Linked DNA regions of Homo sapiens: region 2 is linked to region 1. The links come from fine-mapping of genetic effects on gene expression. Tissue or cell type: lymphoblastoid cells. Region 1 holds a variant in brackets; the other region holds the start of a gene. All regions are shown on one strand. Distances are from middle to middle.

Evidence for each region. PIP is the estimated chance that this variant, and not a neighbour inherited with it, causes the effect.
Region 2: it holds the start of TTLL5, and the variant in region 1 is the best candidate, but not a certain one, in a credible set for the expression of TTLL5 in lymphoblastoid cells (GTEx, PIP 0.64).

The regions. Positions count from the first base shown.
Region 1 is chr14:75,723,197-75,725,958 of GRCh38, reverse strand. All of the region lies in intron 12 of TTLL5 (tubulin tyrosine ligase like 5), which reads right to left. Among named protein-coding and RNA genes, the nearest start is that of TTLL5, 63 kb to the right of the region's middle. The variant C/T (reference allele first, on the strand shown) is at 1,336.
Region 2 is chr14:75,659,949-75,662,710 of GRCh38, reverse strand. TTLL5 (tubulin tyrosine ligase like 5) reads right to left here and starts at 1,465. Exons shown (of 32, transcript NM_015072.5): 1 at 1,324-1,465. It overlaps ERG28 (ergosterol biosynthesis 28 homolog), which reads left to right and starts at 1,835. Exons shown (of 5, transcript NM_007176.4): 1 at 1,835-1,936. RefSeq lists an enhancer at 1,394-1,613 and a silencer at 1,724-1,773.

The sequences.
Region 1 (2,762 bases):
GAGGAAGTCTTTATATGGGGTCCAGAAGGAGAATTTTGGAAAAAAGCAGACCCACAAGAAAATGAAAAGAAAATGCCCACAGCCAATTGGTTAACTAGTCCAAGAAATCAATATGCTATCTGGTTACCAGATGTAAAGGTAGATTTGAAAGGAGTATTTAGGACTGGGTATGCTTAACTAGAGCAAAAGGAGTGTCCTTTTCAGGCCTGATCTGCTAGAAAGGATGATATCATTTTTCCTGAGTATCTAGTTACGGGAGAGCAGAGGGAGAATCCAGGATATGGGGCATGCCAAAAGTGGCCGGACTCATAAGGACATGTCTTTATGTGGGTGGAGAAAGAGCCAGAGAGAACTGGCTCCCAAATTTGGCTTTGCCATTTATTAGCTGCATGACCTAGGACAACTTATTTAACCTTTCTGAATCTTTTTTCCATGTCTATAAAACACAGATAATACCAACCAAAATTGTCGAAGACTAAAAAGAAATAACCAGTGAAACCAAATTAAAGGAAATAACCAATGTTTGCTTGATAAACAGTAGATACTTCCTACATAAGTTTCTTCTGTAGTAAACTTCCTTTCCCATCTAAACAGGAGCATATGATAAACCAAAAAAGGAGATTATCTCAAAAAGTGAAGAGATTGATGACTCTCATTATTTTTCTGTGGGTGGCCAAGTAGTTTACATTGTTGGAGAATGTACACTGCCTGCTTTCATTCCTCCAACAATTATTTATGGACATCCTCCCTATAAGAACCTCAGGTTACCCTGTGAAATGGTCAAGAATGGCAGCAACAGAAAACCAAACCAGGTATCGTCAACACAGAGGTGTACTGGGCATGGCTGGTGCGGAGCAAACACGTCACTGGGCTCTGATCAGAACAAGTCCAGGCTGATCAGTTCTACAAGTGGCTCCACAACTTGTCCCCATGATCCCAGGCCTGGGTCACAACCCATGACTTCAGCCATGCTAATACACAGAGATAAACCCACTGTCAGCAGCAACATCTTTAAAGAGCAGCGAACATCCTGTTGTTTTTGGCTGTTTTTCTTCAACTGATCCAAAAGCTATTCTCATAGCCAGTTGTATCTCACAATGCCAATTTCCTAAGCATATTTAAAGGATTGCTGTTTAAGCATATTATTTCACATGGTACCATATTTTCACGATCTTGGAAGGCAGTAAAAATTAGATTGTAAAAAATCTGTCTTATTGAGGGAGGCATAAAAAATTCTATAAATCAAAAGTCTTATGATCAAGATTATCTGATTGCCAAAACCCATCTTCTGAAGCCCCATAGATACAAGCTGAGTCATTTTGACCTGAGTTATTT[C/T]ACTCACTAACTCTAGAACCTGGAACATAGAGTTCATTTCTCAGGGTTTCAATTTCTATATCTGAACTAATTATTCTCTAAGGTCCTTGCCAGATGTGCAAATCTAGGAAAAAGCATTAAATGACAAAGTTTCGGGTAGTTTGTATAGGTTCTCAAGTCTACATTTAAACACTAATAGTGCAATGGAGGTATATATATATCTATATCTGTATCTCATCCTACATAAAATTTGGTTTGAGAGGAACAAACTTGATGGTAATACACTGCCGAAAGGCTAACCTATGACTTGCCCACAGCAGGAACTGAAGAAAAATTAAATGTATAAATAAATAGGATGGGATATTGAAGATACCTGGAAACATAGTTGAACATTACAGGTGGTAGGATGGGAAAGAAATCATAGGATACAAACACTGAGATAGTAAGGGAATGCCCCTGGCAGAGATCCATAAGATGGAAGGACAGGAACAACCACCAAAAGAATATAGCGAACCCCATGTCTGGTCTGTTGGTTTCCCCTAAAAGCACCAATGCTCTGTTTGAGCCAAAATCTTCTGGGAAGCTTTCAATTCCTGTTTACTCTAAAATAAATGGAAAAAAAAAAAAACAACTAGCTTATTCCTTGTGACTTAAACCCCAGGGGAAGTTAGGAGTCAGTGGGAGGCAGAGACTCATACAAATATACACACGTATACAAAATCATATCTGATGGGATGAGGTTAATGAAGCACACAAAATCCCAGGGCTGACAGGAAGTGGAATTAGAACCACAAAAGCCAAGAAGATAGTCAACAACTTAAAAAACTCCAGATGCACTCAGTTTATTAAAACTGAACACAAGTAGGGAGGAAGAAAGGAGACCCATGGCTGATGAAATGGACTTAAGGGGTATTTCACTGAGTCAGAGAAAGTCACAGCTTCTTCCACGTCGGAACATTCTATTGCCAATAAGTTCAATAATGAAGCTCCCAAGCTTCCAAAAGGCAATCAAGTTATAAAACAAACAAACAAACAAACAAAAGGAAACATTCAGAAAAGGTTTTATAATTATTTAGAACAAAGATTTTTACAGCAAGGGATATCAGAAATTTACCCTCATATAAGAGCCAAGTAGATGTAGAAAAATAAACCTTTATTTATTATTTAAATCTAATGAGGTTTTGGAAGTTGGAGTTACGCTCCTAGTCCCAACCCCTCATCCCCATCTTCAAACAGTCTGCAATAATTCTAAGAGTTCTAGGCCATTACCAAACCAGATCCATTGGGAAGTCTACTGTCAGGCCACCAAAAAGCAATTAAAGCAAGTGCCAATCATTCATTCAAGAAACATTTCCTGAACATTCTCTAAGAGCAAAAGACGCTGACATGCAACTGGGTATGGTGGCACACACCTATAGTCCTAGCTACTCGGGAGGCTGAGGCAGGTG
Region 2 (2,762 bases), 63 kb after region 1:
TATTCCTTGCTAGACAAACCTGGCCTGGGTTAAAAATAAATAAATAAAAACTCAAGGTTTAAGACCCTTGCAGGCCGGGCAGGGTGGCTCACGCCTGTAATCCCAGTACTTTGGGAGGCCAAGGCGGGCGGATCACCTGAGGTCGGGAGTTCGAGACCAGCCTGACTAACATGGAGAAACCCCGTCTTTACTAAAAAAAAAAAAAAAAAATACAAAAAATTAGCCGGGTGTGCTGGCTCATGCCTGTAATCCCAGCTACTCGGGAGGCTGAGGGAGGAGAATCGCTTGAACCCGGGAGGCGGAGGTTGCGGTGAGCCAAGATCGCGCCATTGCACTCCAGCCTGGGCAACAAGAGTGAACTCCGTCTCAAAAAAAAAAAAACAACAAAAAACCCCTGCCAACATTTATTTAGACTCTATGACAAGCACGCTGACAAGATGCCATCATGTTTCCAGTAAAATAAATTCAACAATGAACCGAAAGATGAATATATTCTCTTGAATCAAAGGTCCATATAAATAGGTGGGGGAGGGGAGGAATGCCCTTCCACTCTTAAAAATTATTCTTCCTAAAAATCACAAAGTTTGGTACGACTCTCAAATAGACGATGAAATTAGGAAATTTCCAACACTGCATTTCTAACTTAAAATATTTTTTCTAAAGTAAAAAAGTACATGTTCGTTGTGTGTGTCAGAAGAAGAAATAGGAACTACAAATAAAAGAAACATGTTTAAATGACCATAATCCCAAATTACTCAGCGATAATTACTTGCTGTCAATCCTTCTTAACTTTTCCATGCATTCATAAATACGATGAGACTGTAAATAAGACAAAAAAAAAACAGACCCCGATAATGATCAAAGATCTTCGGCGCAATAGGCAATGTCTAACAACTTCAATGGCTTTCTTCAGGGGATTCTCAACGGGATTTCTTGATCTTTCCCAAAATGCTGGGAAGCCCTTTAAGTTTAAACAAACAAAACCTCCAAACGGGAAGGGATGCCAACCTCTCCTAGGCTGCCTGCAGAGCGGGGAGAAACAGGTCTATCGGAAGAAGAGTAGAGATACTCACCTAAGGAGACTCCTCTCCCGAAAGGAATCTGCTTCTCAGCCCCACCCCCAGCTCACCCCAATCCCACGTAGGTCCGCAGATGCTCCCCCCGGGAAGGACGGGACGACCCCGCAGCCGCGATTCAACGCGGCGCGCCCGGAAGCCAACAGCTACTCCCGGGCTCTGAGCGGGAAGTCCTGCTGCAGGCGCCAGCCCGGACCCGGGAATGCTCCTCCCTAGGGTAGGGAAGCGCGCGGGCGCAGGCGTTTACCTGTCTCATCTTCCCATGGTTCGGGGCGAGCAGGCGTGGACCGCGCTCTGCGCCTACCTCCCTCCTCCTTCCCCAGGAAGGCTCAGGGCAGCCGCCGACGGCTGCTTCCCCGGTTACTACAACAACCAACAAGCAACCGCCCGCTCGGAGCCACTGCGCAGGCGCTCATAACGCTCAGCTGCGGACGCGGGCGAATGTCGTCACCGCCGCGCAGCGCGGGCGCAGAGCCCTGCCCTCAGCTGAAGGGAGTCTTCTTTTTTTTTTTTTTTTCCGCTGTTTTTTTCTCCGCCCCTAAGAGGTTGACTCCAAACCCGGAGTTCCGCTAGGTCCAACAGGAGGGCTTACGGCGTGAGCGGCGTACCTGGGGAGAGGCTTAGGCAGCGGCAACCGCTGATTGGCAGTAAAGGGGTTCACTCCCCATCTCCTGCTCGGGCGAAACCGGGACAGCCAATCAGAGAGAGTACTGACGGAAACGGCCCAATCCTGGAGCAGGGCTGAGGGAGGGGGCGGGGACAAATGGCTCAGGTGGACTCCGGGCTGGAGCTGTCCTGGGGGAGCTTGTTTGCGGCAGCGGCTGCTGCTGCCACTGCTGTGCTGGGGGCCCGGTCGCCAGGTAAGGAGAATATGGGGGAGAAGAGGGATGTAGGTGTCTGTGTTGCTTCTGATTGAGAGGATCCGGAGAGTCTGGAAAAATGGAGGTGGGATGGAAGGAAGATAACTGGAAGGCAACCTTTTGGGGGGAAAAGGTTTCGAGAGGCGATGACAAGGGGGAGCTAGGAAGATGGAGAAGGCTTGGTGAATTCAAGGAACGAAGGAATGGATGAGCGAATGAGCAGCCACTATGAGCCTAGCACTGTACAAAGAGCCTTCACTTTTTGTCATATAATTCTTACAATAGCCCTTCGGGTTGATATTTCTATCTCCATTTTGCAGATGAGGAAACCGAGACTGAAAAGTGTAAATGACTTACCCAGGGTCACACAGCTACTAAGTGGTAGGGCCAGGATAAGAATCCCTTTCTCCTGATTAAGTTTTAACAGCACACCTATGCTGGGCTGGGCTTGGCTGGGCTGGGCCAGGGCCAGGACAAAATTTGGAAATAGATGTTGTATACACTCTAAGAGGCCCTTAAGCTTTAGGGAAATTAGGTTGAGAAATTGGCAGAGCAATTCAGAAGTGCTCAGGCTCTGTCCTCATCAGCTATCTGTTGGGATTTCTAACAGATAACACTTCTGTGAAATGGAAGGCATACTTGTGCAGAAAAGTGGAGAGGTGCATCCATGCAGCTTTTCTAAACCCCGGAGGAGTCTCCTCTTGAGAGAGAGTGAGAAAATAAAGAGGATGGGTGGATCTTGGCCCAAATGATAATGGCCTGTGATGTCCAGTAGACCCTCAGTCTCTCTGATCTTCGACAGAGACCACCTTTGTGATCCAGCTCT